2 separate regions of the Homo sapiens genome follow, and region 1 is linked to region 2. Evidence: fine-mapped expression QTL. Tissue or cell type: whole blood. Region 2 holds a variant in brackets; the other region holds the start of a gene. All regions are shown on one strand. Distances are between the middles of the regions.

What was found. PIP is the estimated chance that this variant, and not a neighbour inherited with it, causes the effect.
Region 1: MAP2K5 starts here. The variant in region 2 is fine-mapped to the expression of MAP2K5 in whole blood (INTERVAL, PIP above 0.99).

What each region holds. Positions count from the first base shown.
Region 1 is chr15:67,538,833-67,546,832 of GRCh38, reverse strand. MAP2K5 (mitogen-activated protein kinase kinase 5) reads right to left here and starts at 4,130. Exons shown (of 22, transcript NM_145160.3): 1 at 3,363-4,130. The coding sequence starts at 3,497. It overlaps MAP2K5-DT (MAP2K5 divergent transcript), which reads left to right and starts at 4,203. Exons shown (of 1, transcript NR_186334.1): 1 at 4,203-5,765. RefSeq lists a silencer at 3,995-4,114 and enhancers at 4,988-5,037, 4,690-5,190, 7,224-7,313.
Region 2 is chr15:67,632,851-67,641,110 of GRCh38, reverse strand. The region is part of intron 9 of MAP2K5 (mitogen-activated protein kinase kinase 5); the gene reads right to left. Among named protein-coding and RNA genes, the nearest start is that of MAP2K5, 94 kb to the right of the region's middle. The variant C/A (reference allele first, on the strand shown) is at 3,882.

The DNA of each region.
Region 1 (8,000 bases), 94 kb after region 2:
TCGGCCTCCCAAAGTGTTGGCATTACAGGCCTAAGCCACCACTCCTGGCCCAGAAGTCTTATAGATGAGGGGAAATCTGAGCTTGGAGACCACAGAATACAAAAAGAAGAGGGGAGAGGGTTGGGCATTCTCTCTCATCACACACTAACCAGACCTCTTGTATAGTTTTCCCAAAACTAGGAACTCAGTCTCCAGGGAAAAAGAGAAACACAGAAAGCTGCAAAACAGAAGACCCAAATGTCTCTACCTTTGAGGGTCAGGTCAGCCTCCATAGTTCAGCCAGTCCCTGATGATTCAGACAAAAGACAAGGCCCAGAGAGACCGACTGACTTGCCCAGGGTCTCCCAGCTATTTGATGCACAGTGACTGGAGCCCTCAACTGCTGACTTCAGGTCCGAGACACTCAGTTATGGCTGACTCGGTGACTACAACCTGCTTCTGGCATCTGTGTCAGGTTCTGCCAAAAATTAGCTGGGTGGCTTTAGCAAGGTATTTTCCCCCTGTGGGGTTCATGCCTCTTCATTCGAAATGAGTCTGAATTAGATGAGGGGATTCTTCCAGGTTCCACGTGACTTTAAAGTTTAAGGTTCCAAGCCAGAGATGCTGACGTGTCTCTTGGTTCTTGCCTTTTCTTGATGAAGAGATGAAGTAAACCTGGAGAACAGATCACAGGAGTCTGCCATGATCTGGGCTTGAACATTTGCTAAAATGGAGCACTAGGAGATAGCACTGAACACCCACTGCCACAGGTCCTTCGTCAGGCCTTTCTGACAAAACATGCTCCACCTGGGCTTACCTAGCCAAAAGTGTGCAGACACCTGGCATGCTGAGCTCTAGTGGTGGGGCCACTCGTGTTTCCTGTTAAGCCAGTCAGCCTTGAGCCAGGTACAACTTAGAGATGCTCAAGAAACAGAAGACCCAAGTCCAATCCCTTATAATAACAATCCCATCAATAATAACAACACTAATGGAGCGCTTACTATGTGCTAAGTTGTTCTGAGTGCTTTACATGTATCAACTCAAGGAGTCCTCAGAACTCTAGGAGGTAGGCATTACTTTCACCCCTCCCCAACTTTTTTTTCACAAATAAAGAAACTGAGATACAGAAGATACTTGCCCCAGTAGTACAACTTGCAAGTTAAACAACCTGGCTCCAGAGTTTGTGGTCTTAAACACTGGGCTATTCTTGAAATAATCACATAACCAAATAATATAATCACATAATAATCAACCTTCCATTGTTTTAAATGAGTAAGAGAAAACCCATCTTTCTCATCACAGTCACAATCTCACATAATCTTTCCAAGTCTTTGAGGAAGGTACAAGTTTCCCTGTTTTACAAATAAGGAAACTAAGGCTCAGAGAGGTAGACTGACTTGCCTAGTCAGTGGGACAGCTTGCAATTAAACCCAAATTCCTTGACTCTAAACCTAGTGTTCTGTCCACAGAACCATAATTGCATGCATCCTCTTTTAAGCTCCCTTCTTAAACAAGTATTTTGGGGTCCTATGAAGAAACAAAAACAAACATATCTATCTCCTCCAGAAGTTTACCATCTAGTGGAGGAGACAAAGAATCATGATCAAACATGTGCTTTGCTGGGGGACCCACACAAAGCTGTGACGACACAGAGGTGGGGCACATAACCAAGAATGACACAGAGAAAAAGCACAACTTGGCTTGGAAGGACAGGTGGGAATTGACCGGTGAAGAGCAGAGTGCAGACAGCCTGGACACCTGGGAGAAATGAAAATCAACCTATGTAAGTGAGGCACAGAAGTTTATGGGGCCGTGAAGAGAGATGACACAGGTGCCAGGCAGACAGGGGCCAATCCAGATGTGCCCAGAGGACCACATGAAGGAGCCTGGGCCTTATCATGAGGGGAAATCTGTATGTGCATGACTGTGTGGAGAACTCCGGATACAAAGAGAAGGATGGCATTTGATGCACAATATGGAAAGCTCCTGGTCAAGGCACCCAAAAATCTGCATGGCCTGGGCAGTCAGTAACATCTAGAACTCAAAATGAAGTTATAGAAATCAAATTTTGATTAAGTTACCCAAGACAATGAAAAATCACATCACAAATCTTCCTCTTCCCAAGATCCTGCCACCTTGCCCACTCTTAACTTGCAGGTAGTGATGTGCTTTTCGGAATGTCCGCTTCTGTCTTCCATGCCTCAGTTATTCTGCATGTAGAATGGGCACAAGGCACCCTGTCTATCTCAAATGAATACCAGAAAGATTAGAAGCGGCTGCAACATGTAGGGAAAGAAACCTACTAAGTCAATGAAACAAAATTTTAGTTCTGGTACTGACTCTCCCACTCAGGAGCTCACAGCTTTGGAAAAGCCATTTCACCTCACTGCTCCTCAGTAACTATCTGCAAAAAAGAAACATCAGCTGAACAGGCCACCTACAGTGTTACACTCTGCTCTAAAATTCCATCATTTTATTTGAAATATATTCTGAAAAATCTGAATGTAAAATATCACCAATTCTAAGATGCACATTTTCCCTTACTTTTACCGTCTCTGAAACTGGACTCATTTTAATAACGGATGATGTGTCATACTGTCATGGTTAGCATTTTTTTCTAAGTAAAATGTCTTACATTCAATGATGCTTTAAGTTTGCTCAGGCTGGGCACAGTAACTCACACCTGTAATCTCAGCACTTTGGGAAGGCCGAGGCAAGCAAATCGCAGGAGTTCAAGACCAGCCTGGGCAACATGGCAATACCTCGTCTCTACAAGATACAAAAATTATCCAGGTGTGATGGCATGTGCCAGCTACTTGGGAGGCTGAGGTAGGAGAATCGCTTGAGCCCAGGAGGCAGAGGCTGCAGTGAGCCGAGATCGTGCCACAGCACTGCAGCCTGAGCGACAGAGTGAGGCCCTGTCTCAAAATAAATTAATGAAACAGTGTGCTCAAACATGGTAAGTTAAAGTTGTCCTTTTTCCCTTTCTCAGCTGGTCACCAAGTTCAGAGAACTCAGTAGAAAAACAAGGCTGGAATCTGTCCAAGGACATTCCCCGAAACACTTGGGGGGAAAAAACCTCTCTTCTAGATTCAGCAGTTTGCATTTGCGTGGTTGTGTCTATATGTGTGTCCCAGCCCGGGCCATGAGCTCTCTGAGGGCAGGGGTTCAGTCAGATTGATCTATCTCCCCAGGGTCCTAGACATTTGCCAGGTTTTAGTGGTTGCAATTTATCAATGCTGTGCCTGAAGCAATAAAACTGCCTCCACAGGAAGCCAGCAGTAGCCATTGCCACTGGCTCAGGTCACCAGTGGTCAAGGTGCTGACTACTCAAGTCCCTGAGTCCCCCTTGCTGGCATCCGGACACTGAGATTACCACTCACCAGCACATCCCTGAAGAGTAACTGCGGCCCGGAGTGCACTGTCCAGTCCACCGCGCCACTATTTGGGATCTTGATGCGAATTACCAGCACCTGGTTCTCCATGGCAGGAAAGGGGCCAAGGGCTAGCCACAGCATTACAGGTTAAAGAGGCTCACATCCTGGGGTATGGGAAACCCACTGGCCGCTGGTTAGGAGGGGGCTCCAAGAGGTGACAAGGGGAGTGACGGGCAGAGGACAGAGGGTGAAAACAAGGGAATGGAGGATGAGGGGGAGGGAAGAGGGGAGGGGTGATCAGGAACGCACCCGCAGGCACCGAGCCTGCCCAGGCTGTCGGGGGTCTGAGGTGTCTCCCGGGGAGGGTGCACCGGGAAGCGGGCAAAGGCCCGCAGGAACTAGCGGAGGTCGGAAGGTTCTGGAGTTGAGCGAACGCTATGGTGAAGGTCTCTGCCGCCGTGTGGGTATGAGGAGGCAGCAGGGCAAGGACTCGGTTTGGGGGAGATACAGCGGCAGGTGTCCACCGCTCGTCAGTGGACTAGGAGAGGGTCCTCGACTGGAGGGGACTCAGTCCGGGGCTATTAAGAAAGAGCCCCAGGGCCGCCACACCACGGAGAGTCCCCGCGGGAGGTTCAAGGGGCGAGTCTTCTGCCCCACCCGGAGACACAGGGCGCGGCGCGCGCAGGCTGAGCTCCGGCCACCCGAGGCCGCGCGGACTGGCGGCGGCTGCGGCGGCGGCGACGGCGGTAGCGGCGAGAGGAGGAGGAGGAAGGCGGCGGCGACACTGTTACTCCGGAACCAAAACGCGCGGCGCCGGAACCCCGGGAGCCGACGAGCGGGACCCGCCTCCCGCGGCGCCATGTTGGAAAAGGGCAGCAGCTCCCGGGAGGATGCGCCCCCGGCGTGGGAAGCCGAGGAACCGGCGCGCGGCGCGCGGCGCGTGGCGCGTGGCGAGTCGGGGAGAGACTGGTCTTGCTCGCTCAGGAGACCCTCATCGCCCACAGAGCGCCCGCGGCGACCCGGTCACGGCCCTTCCATTTCCTGACCCTGCTTAATGACAGCGAGGTGAAAACATCTACCAAACGAAGGGTAAAAGGCTGGAGTCCGCCAAAAGCCAATTTAAGGCTTAACATTGCAGACCGTTTGTCTTTACAAAAGCTTCAAAGACGGGGCTGCAGCTCCCGGTTATCCCCACTTTGTCAAGCCATGAATCTGAATGTTCGTGGGGTTGTGTGCATCGAATCAGCAAGAGCAAGGCAAGAATTCAAGAAATAGTTCTTTTTTATCCCCCCTTCCAAGTCACAGGTTCAGAGGATCATCATCTTTCTCCCACATTAGCAAAACATATTTGCATTTTTCAGTGAAGTTCTTTACCGCACGAGTGCCCTAAAATAGCAAACAGTTCCCTGTTCAAAAGCAATAGTAAAGAAATTCGCCGAAGAGTTTAATTGCCTGGGGACAGCTGCAGTAGTCGCATCATCGTCTCTTATTAAACTGTTGCAGAAATATTCGGTCTAGTCCATGTATTTTCAACTAAATAGCACTGCTTACGCAGTTGGTGATATGGTGATATCACGGAAGTAGCAATAAACCTTGGTTATCTTTTTTTTTTTTTTTTTTGAGACGGAGTCTCGCTCCGTCGCCCAGGCTGGAGTGCAACGGCGCGACCTCTACTCACCACAACCTCAGCCTCCCGGATTCAAGCGATTCTCCTGCCTCAGCACTACCACCCCCACCAGCCCCCAACCCCTGCCGAGTAACTGGGACTACAGGCGTGCGCCATCCGTGCCCGCTCATTTTTGTATTTTCAGTAGAGACTGGGTTTCACTATGTTGGCCAGGCTGGTCTCAAACTCCTGACCTCGTGATCCGCCCACCTCAGCCTCCCAAAGTGCTGGGGGGATTACAGGTGTGAGCCACCGCGCCCGGCCAACCTTGGTTATCTTCAAATGCCTTGTTACCTCAGATTTTAAAGTGCATAAGGTTGTAGAACGATGGTGCCTCTACAGAAGTTTCTTTACAAATTGTAATGTGTAGGTTCGTCCTTTATTTCTTTCTTATGAAGGTGCACGAATTGGCTTTACTTTCTGGGGTTGAATTTTGTATAAACTCGGTTGAGGAGGCTTGTCAGTTTCCCTTCTAACAGTAAGGTGCTTGATTAATGTGAGAGAAAAAAATTAATGTTGGTCATTTTCAGTTACAATACCAAAATTTTTTCTGCATACTTTACTCTGAGTTACTTTTATATTTAATTTGAAAGGCCATTGTAGGAGATAAATTATCACATTTTAAGTTACTGTAAATCAATAGCTTAGGTAGAAATTCATTTAGTCAGATCCTTCAGATATTCTAGGAATTTCCCCTTTTCACCTGCACTTCACTTCTGTGAAAAATAAACCGTTCATCAAAAGTCCTCATGTACTTTTATTAAAAGTTCATTTCCTATTATTTTAGAAAATAGACCACGAAACTAGAGATTTTCTATGAACCTGTGATTTGTTAAAATGTCTCTTTTATTCGAAGTACCGTGGGGAAAACCAACTCAATTTGCCAAATTTGCATACATATTCTGAAGCTTTTCTTACACTAATGGCAAACTCATATTTCTGTTCCAATATTTGCAGAGCCAATATAATTACACGTCAGCTCTTCATAGCCTTTATGTAGTAAGAAATCTTAACTTTGATGATTTGAGCAAGGATTTTTCCAGAAAGTTATAACTCTCATTGCGAGAAGCATCATAATCACTGATAATACATTCCACTTGATATCATAAATGACAAAATATAACTTTCTGATCTTTACCAAATTGAATACTGTCTAAATTTAAGGAATATTTAGTATTTAACATCGAAGTTGCATGTGATCTTAAGAAGTTTGCATTTAGTACTTTTTTTCATTTTATTTTATTTTATTTATTTATTTTGAGACGGAGTCTTACTCTGTCACCCAGACTGTAGTGCACTGGCGCAGTCTCGGCTCATTGCAACCTCCACCTCCCAGGTTCAAGCGATTCTCCTGCCTCAGCCTCCCAAGTAACTAGGACTATAGGTATGTGCCACCACGCCCAGCTAATTGTTGTACTTTTAGTAGAGACGAGGTTTCACCATGTTGGCCAGGCTGGTCTGGAACTCCTGACCTCAAGTGATCCACCCGTCTCGGCCTCCCAAAGTGCTAGGAATACAGGCGTGAGACAGCGCGCCAGGCCTTTTTTCTTGTTAAATGATACAAGTCAGAATAGTCACTCAGGTACTGGCTGAGATAGTTTACTAGCCATTAAGCAAACTTACTGTAAAAAAAAAACTGTGCTTACTTGTAGTGTTCCTACTTGAGGGATTTACTTTTCACTAAGTGTAATAGAAAATCCCTCCCCTCATGAAGTTATATTCTGATGGGGAACACAGACAAATGAGTAAAATATATGTTAGATAGTAGTAAATGCTAACAGAAAAATGAAATCAGAAGGGAAAATGGTAAAACAGTAAGTGCACCAGTGTGATAACACTAAGGAATATGAAAACTGGCCTATATTGGCTTCAGTTAACTGGCAAATTTAACTGAAAATAGACACATTACTGAAAAGTTAGATGTCTAGTGATTTTTTTCCTTGTGATAAAATACACATAAAATTTACCATTGTACTCATTTTGAAGTGTGCAGATCAGTAGTGTTACATACATTCATTCATCCTGTTGTACAGCCAATCTCCAGATTTTCATCTTGCAAAACTGAAACTCTATATTCATTAAACAACTGCCCACTTCCCCTTCCCTCCAGCCCCTGGCAACCACCAATCAACTTTCTATTTCTATGAATTTGACTACTCTAGATACCTCATATAAATAGAATCATCCAGTATCTGCCTTTTTGTGACTGGCTTATTTCACTTGGTATAATGCCTTCAGGGTCCATCATGTTGTAACATGTGTCAGCATTTCCTTACTTTTTTTTTTTTTTTTAAGATGTACTCTTGCTGTGTCATCAACACTGGAGTGTAGTGGCATGATCTAGGCTCCACCTCCTGGGTTCAAGCAATTCTCCCACTTCAGCCTCCCAAGTAGCTGGGATTACAGGTGCCCACCACCACACAAGGCTAATTTTTGTATTTTTAGTAGAGACAGGGTTTCACCATGTTGGCCAGATTGGTCTCGAACTCCTGACCTCAGGTGATCCACCCACCTTGGCCTCCCAAAGTGCTGGGGTTACAGGCATGAGCCACCACCCCTGGCCATTTCCTTCCTTTTCAAAGCTGAACAAAATTCTGTTGTGTGTATATAACACATTGTGTGTATCCATTCATCTATCAATGAACATTTAAGTTGTTTCCACCTTTTGGCTATTGTGAATAATGCTGATATGAACATGGGGGTACAAATATCTGTTCCTGTCTCTCCTTTCGACTTTTTGGGATGTATACTCAAAAGTGGAATTGCTGGATCATATTTTCTATGTTTAATTTTTTGAGGAATCACCATACTGTTTTCCAGAGTGGCTGTACCATTTTACATTCTCACCAAAAGTGCATAAGAGTTCCAATTTCTCCATGTTTTCACCACCACTGGTTATTTTCTATATTTGTTTATAGTAGCTATCCTGTTGGGTATAATGTGATATCTTACTGTAGTTTTAATTTGTATTTCTCTAA
Region 2 (8,260 bases):
TTTTATAGAATACATTAATGGTATAAAAAGGTTCTGTTTACAAGATGGCTAACAGTATTTTTATTTGTTTTCTGCTCTACTTATCTGCAATTGTCTTGACTACCTGCACCAAACAAACAGACAAAAAGGTAGAAACACGTTTCATGAATTACACATGGTCATTATGAAATAGTTATCTTTAAAATGTGATTAGCATCATTTTCAAAATGTTCTCTTTGAGGCAGAACATTTTCTAAATTCAATAGTATAAAATAGAAATTCATGGTACATTATTCTTTCCAAAATTCAACTTCTTTTAAAAATATCTTGTAATATATTCCTACCTCAGAAGTCTAAAAAGGGAAACATTTACAATATGCTTTTTTGTCTAAAAAATAAGAACATTTAGAAGCATAACATGAGAAACATTTTGAGTAGGAAAAGCAACAGATTTTCAAGGACTCATCTAATTGTGCCCATAGACATTCAAAGTGTGGGTCCAACTGACCACTTTGCTTGGAAAATTAAATTTCCCTCATCATTCCATGCAGGCGTCAGACCCTGCAGGTGATTCAGTTTGGACAAGGACTGTGATTTGCTGCTCTTCACAATCCTCTGTGACATCAGGCAGCCCCGTTTCACAGCTGAGGTCACTGGGAGGTTCAAGTGACATGCTTGAAGTCACACAAAAGTCAGGAGAGGGTCAGGAAAAGATCAAATACGCTTCTAACTCTTAACCTTCCATTTCACCCTTTAATATAAAAAAAGCTAAGAAATATTCTGGGTGAGAGCAATGGTCCATATAAAGAACGCTATGAGATATTTTGTATGTGAGCTGAACCTGCTTTCAAGATGTTACTTTAAAAGATGAATGAACTAAAGAACAAACAGAAGAACAAAAATTTATTCACTCAGTCACTCAACAAATTATGTATTGAACACTTACTCGTTATGTGTAATGCTTTGTACTATACCCTATATGCAAGGATCTGCAGGAATCACGGAGTAAGGCAAGAAGATAAATAAGATCTGTTCCCCACTTACAGAGTTTTCAATATAATATGGGAAATGTACAGGTATACTAACAGCAAAATACAAGGCAGTTGGTGATAACACCCTTAAAAGACATATACAGGGAATTCTAGAGAGGTTCAAAGAAGAAAATGAGTGAGTGAGAGATAGACCATATGTGACAGGGCTTATCCAGAAAAGTTCAATGAAGGAGCAGGCTTTTCAGCTGATCCTTGAAAGGTGTTAAAGATTTTGATAGGTAGAGATAACGGGTGAAAGCATTCTAATTAGAGAGGAATACGTGAATCAAAGTGTTGAAGTGAGAAAGTGCCTGAGTTCAGATAAGGCAACGAGTTCAACTTAAAAGACACACAGGATTCAAACATGTAAGATAATGCTATAAAAGCAGACTGACGACATGTCGTGGAGGATCTTGAATTCCATCCTCTAAAGTCTTTAGTTTATCTGGGAAGTGACGTGAAGCCTCTGAAGACTTTTGAGAGGGAAATAAATGTGACCAGGATGACCCTTGGCAAGCCAAATCTGAGAGCAGTGAGCAGCGCCGGCAGGGGGGTCACCGGCACTTAGAACAAGACTACCTATGTTTAAATCCTGGCTCCACTACTTATCAGTTGTGGGACCTTGGGCAAGTTATTTAACTTCTCTGTGCCTCAGCTTTTGTAAAACAGGAATCAGTAAGAGTTACAAAATGTTGTGAGCATTAATTTAAAAAATGCATGCAAAATGCTTAGCATTGTATAAATCATCAATAAATGGTAGCTTCTATTTACTGAGAACAATTCAAAAGCTGGTATACATGTCTGACAAGAAAGAAGCCAAGCATCTGGATTAGAGTGGTGTAAGGAAAAGAAAGGGATATTAGAACTCTGTCAGATGCATAGTTCGCAAAATTTTTCTCCCATTCTGTAGGCTGTCTGTTCACCCTGTTGATAATTTCCTTTGCTGTGCAGCTCTTTAGTTTAATTAGATCCCATTTGTCAATTTTTGCTTTTGTTGCAATCGCTTTTGGTGTCTTCATCATGAAATCTTTATCCCACTCCTATGTCCAGAATGGTATTTCCTAGGTTGCCTTCCAGGGTTTTTGTACTTTGGGTTTTACATTTAAGTCTTTAATTTTGAGTTAATTTTTGCAGTAAAGGGGTATAAGGAAGGGGTCTATACAAATTTGTAAGAAAAAGACAACCCCATTAAAAAGTGGGCAAAGGACACGAACAGACACTTCTCAAAAGAAGATATACACGAGGCCAACAATCCTATGGAAAAACGCTCAACATCACTGATCATTTGAGAAACGTAAATCAAAACCACAATGAGATACCATCTCACATCAGTCAGAATGGCTATTACTAAAAAGTCAAAAAATAACAGATGCTGGCAAGGTTGTGGAGAAAAAGGAATGCTTATATACTGTTGGAAGGAGTGTAAATTAGTTCAACCATTGTGGAAGACAGTGCAGTGATTCCTCAAAGTCCTAAAAACAGAAATACCATTTGACCCAGCAATCCCATTACTGGGTATATACCCAAATGAATATAAAGCATTCTATTATAAAGACACACGCATGCAAATGGTCATTGCAGCACTATTCGCAATAGCAAAGACATGGAATCAACCTAAATGCCCATCACTGGTAGACTGGATAAAGAAAATGTGGTACATACACACCATGGAATACTATGCAGTCATAAAAAACAATGAGATCATGTCCTCTGCAGGAACATGGATGGAGCTGGAGGTCATCATCTTTAGCAAACTAACACAAGAACAGGAAACCGAATACCACATGTTCTCACTTATAAGTGGGAGCTAACTTATGAGAACACATGGACACATAGAGGGAAACACCACACACTGTGGCCTATCAGAAGGTGGAGGGTGAAGTGGGGAGATGATCAGGAAAAATAACTAATAGGTACTAGGCTTAATACCTGGGTGACAAAATAATCTGTACAACAAACCCCCATGGCACAAGTATACTTATATAACAAACCTGCACATGTACCCCTTAAAAGTTAAATTAAAAAAGTTAAATTAAAAGTTAAAAAAATTAACTTTTTTAATTTTTAAAAAATTAAAAGTAAAAAAAAGTTAAAAAAAGTTAAATTAAAAGTTAAAAAAGTTAAAAGTTAAATTAAAAAAAAGAAAGGAAGAGGTACTAAAACACACATACACACACACTCACACACACATCAACAGGCTTCCAGACATTGGACATTAGCCAGAATGGGGCAGTGATCCCTGAAAGATGGAAAACAAATGAGATGAGCCCTATGATTGCCCAGCTTGCTGACCAGAGAGTTCCCAGGCCTCAGTGCAGGGAGGGGAAACCAGGCAGAGATAAGCCATCTCCCTAAGATGAGAAGACAAAACTGAGAGTCTGAGGAGGCCAAGGAAGCTAGAGAAGCAGAGGGCAGAGAGCTGGCAGAGGACCTGAGGGAGAGAGCTCCAGAGGTCTGCCGAGGGGGTCCTGGAGTCTTCAGCTGAGTAATGAATGATCTGTACATAGATGTCAGGAGATCACCTGAGGCCAGGGAGAGAACCACTAGAAAGGCTCAGAAGAAACGATCTCCAGATTAATACTGGGCAAGAAAAGTTTGTATTCCCACCAGTCAGTGTGGAAAAACCTTGCAATTTGCAAGGCACCAGGTAGAGTACTCAGAAGAGTACTACCTCTGCTGCACGGGGAAAATTAGTTCTAGACTAACCACTGGGCTGGTACTGTCTAATAAAACTTAAAAGCAAGCCTTGAAAGAATCAAATTATTCAAAAGTAACTAAATACCATCTCTGTATTAGTCAGGGTTCTCTAGAGGGACAGAACTAATAGGATAGATGTATATATGAAGGGGAATTTATTAAGGAGTATTGACT[C/A]ACAGGATGACAAGGTGAAGTCCCACAATAGGCCATCTGCAAGCTGAGGAGCAAGGAAGCCAGTCCAAGTCTGAAAACCTCAAAAGTAGGGAAGCCAACAGTGCAGCCTTCAGTCTGTAGCTGAAGGCCTGAAAGCCCCCGGCAAATCACTGGTGTAGGTCCAAGAGTCCAAAAGCTGAAGAACTTGGAGTCTGATGTTCAAGGTCAGGAAGCATCCAGCATGGAAGAAAGATGAAGGCGGGAAGACTCAGCAAGTCAAGTCCTTCCAACTTCTGCCTGCTTTTATCCTAGCCACACTGGCAGCTGATTAGATGGTGCCCACCCAGATTGCAGGTGGGTCTGCCTCTCCCAGCCCACTGACTCAAATGTTAATCTCTTACGTTAACATTAACTCAAATGTTAATCTCTCTGAATATTAACACCTTCACAGACACACCCCGAAACAATACTTTGCATCCTTCAACCCAATCGAGTTAACACTCAATATTACCCACCACAATCTCAGAATAAAGTTCAAAAATATTTATAGCAGAGCAAAAATAGCACCCATGCCACATGTCTGGTATCCAATAAAAAATTATAAGGCATAGCTGCTCTGCTCAAGCAGAGTAGCTATTCTCTTATTCCTTTACTTTCTTAATAAACTTGCTTTTCACTTAAAAAAAATTATAAGATATGAAAAAAAAGTGAAAAATACAACCCAAAGTGAGGAGAAGAGGAATCAGTCAAAACTGATCCAGATATGACACATATGATGGAATAAATAGATAAGGCCACTAATTCAGTTATTATAACTATATTTCATACTTTTTTTTTTTTTTTGAGACGGAGTCTTATTCTGTTGCCCAGGCTGGAGTGCAGTGGCGCAATCTTGGCTCACTGCAAGCTCCACTTCCCAGGTTCACGCCATTCTCCTGCTTCAGCCTCCTGAGTAGCTGGGACTACAAGCGCCCGACACCACGGCCAGCTAATTTTTTGTATTTTTAGTAGAAATGGGGTTTCACCGTGTTAGGATGGTCTCGATCTCCTGACCTCATGATCCGCCCACCTCAGCCTTTCAAAGTGCTGGGATTACAGGCATGAGCCACGGCGCCCGGTCATTTCATACTTTCAAGAAAGCAGAGGAGGCCAGGTGCCCTGGCTCACACCTGTAATCCCAGCACTTTGATAGGTGGAGGCGGGTGGATTGCTTGAGCCCATGAATTCAAGACAAGCCTGGACAATGTGGCAAAACCCCATCTTTATTTATAAAAACAAAAAAAAAGAAAGCAGAGGAAGTTTTAAACATGTTAAGTAGAGACATTAAAGATGTAAACACCAGCTCAATACCAGTGATAAAGAAAAAGTCTTGAAAGCAGCCAGAATGAAGCCAATTCTAATATACAGAGGAACAAAGATTTAAAATGACAGTAAACTTCTCACTGGAAAGAAAGAAAACAGTGAAACAAAATCTTTAAAAAACTGAAAGAAAACAGCAGCCAACCTAGAATTCTACATTTAGCAAAAATTAAAATGCCTCCCAAAAATGAAAGTGAAATATACATTTTTAGACATACAAAAGCTGAAAGAATACCAAAAGACCCACACTATATGAAATGTAAAGGAAGAAGTCATTCAGACAGAAGGAAAATACTACTAGATGGAAATCTGAACCACACAAAGGAATGAAGAGCACTGGCATTGGTAAATACAGGAATAAAAATAGAATACTATTTTTCTTACTTTTTAAATGTCTTTAAAAGATAAATATTTCCAGGCCGGGCACGGTGACTCACACCTGTAATCCCTGCACTTTGGGAGGCCGAGGTGGGCAGATCACAAGGTCAGGAGTTCGAGACCATCCTGCCTAACATGGTGAAACCCCATCTCTACTAAAAGTAGAAAAAAATTAGCCGGGCGTGGTGGCAGGCGCCTGTAGTCCCAGCTACTCGGGAGGCTGAGGCAGAAGAATGGTGTGAACCCAGGAGGCGGAGCCGAGATCGCACCACTGCACTCCAGCCTAGGCGACAGAGCGAGACTCTGTCTCAAAAAAAAAAAAAAAGATAAATATCTAAAGCAAAAGTAGTGACAATGCATTTTGGGGTTTATCGCATATGATGATGTAAAATGGATGATAATAAAACAAAGGCTGGGATGAGGGAAATGAAAATACACCACTGTAAGATTTGTAGACTATAAAGTGGTACAATACTATTTACATAGGAAGACTATGTTAAGTTATGAATTCTAAAGCAATCACTTAAAAAAGGGGGCATACAGGCAGAACAAATAGAAAACAAAGAGCAAAATGACAGATTTGAATCCAAACATATCAATAATCATATGAAATGTAAATAGTCTCAATACTCTCACTTAAAAAGCAGAGATCATCCAACTGGATTAAAAAATAAGACCCAACTGTATGCTGCCTACATGAAATACATTTCAAAAATAATGACACAATAGGTTAAAAGTAAAAAAAAAAATATCATGCTAACACTTGTCAAAATGAAGCCTAGAATTTAATATCAGACTATAAATTTCAGAGCAAAGAATATGATCACAGACAAAGAAGGTTACTTCATAATGTCAATGAGGCCGATTTATCAAGAGGACATAACAAACATAAATGCACCTAAGAATATATCTTCAAAAAACATTAAGTAAAAAATAACAGAACTGTAGGCCACAATTATTGTTGAGTATTTCAACACCCCTCTTTCAGTAATTGATAGTACTAGATAAAAATCAAATATCTAATAACAAATATCTGAATAACACTATCAGCCAACTTGATCTAATTGACATTATACAATACCCTATACAGTGGATTATACATTCTTTTTTTTTTTTTTTTTTTTTTTTTTTTTTTTTTTTTTTTTTGAGATGAGGTCTTACTCTGTCACCCAGACTAGAATGCAGTGGTGCAATCATGGCTCACTGAAGTCTCAACTTCCTCAGCTCAGCGATCCTCCCACCTTAGCCTCCCAAGTAGCTGGGACTACAGGCACACACCACCATGCCCAGCTAATTTATTTTTTATTTTTTATTTTTTGTAGAGACAGGGTTTTGCCACGTTTCCCAGGCTGGTCTCGTACTCCTGAGCTCAAGTCATCCACCTACCTCAGCCTCCCAAAGTGCTGGGATTACAGGCACAAGCAGGCTATACATTCTTTTCATGTGTACAAGGACTGTTTACCAAAATAGGTCATATTCTGAGCCATAATATAAGTCTCAACAAATTTAAAACAATTTAAGTTATAGGAAGGGTGTTCTGGAACCACAATGGAATTAAATCAGAAATCAGTAATAGAAAGATGGAAAATCTCCAAATATTTGGAAACTAAATAACACACTTCTAAGAATTAAAAATTCTGCCTGTTTTGAAGAAATGGTAAATTTTTCTTAGATTATGACTATTATACAAGTTACATGGTTTTTGCCTAAACTACCAACAAGCTCAGGGCTACACAAATGTTTAATCACAATAATCATATCTGCTCTTAAATCATCCATTCATTCAATTCAGTGTGAGTATCTACTATATTTTATAGAATCTAGAGATACAAAGTGAATACAGTACAGTTCTTGTTGTAAAGCCCAGTTTAATGATCAGGTCTAGTGAACAGTATATTTGTAAATCCCAACTATTTTCATTTACTGACAGTCTCTACTTTCCTAACAGCTATTCTGTAAATATGTCCTTTCTTTAAAATTGCTTTTACTCTTTTCCAGAAAAAGCTGTTGGCCCCTTGCCACACCCAACTAATGCACAATACTTTTAATATTAGTCTATATAAACATAATTCAAAATGTATGAAATTACGAAAAATGTATAATGTACTTTGCAAGGCCAAATAATCATAGATTTCTAGACGATTTATAACAGTGTTCCCCTCTCCTGGAGTAAATAACCTAGAGTTGGCTATCTTTAAATATATCATCAGCAACAATCTAAGACTTCTGACATAAAAGGAACAAAAAAGTAACTCAATGGATGGGAAAATAGTGCTCAAGTTTTAGTGGAAGTTTTCTCTTAGTGAAAAGGGAGCTCAGGAGGTACAGAAAGGTTAAACCAATGCCAAGGTGTACAACAGAGCCACACTCAGTGAGAACCAAGGTGGTACGACTGGGCCGCGCTCGGTGAGCACCAAGGTGGTATGACACAGCTGCATTCAGTGAGCTCAGTGCCTCTGTAAAATGTGGGGGCTGTAACAGGTGATCTCCAAGGTCTCTTCCAGTTCTACAATTCTATGGACCCTAAATGGCTGAACTGTCAAAGAAAATATCTCAAAGGAAGCTCTGTTGTACCCCCTCACAAGCTATTTAACTTATTAAAACTAAACTTGATAATGCCACGTAACACATTCTAGGTGCTGTACTAGATGTGATATGGAAGA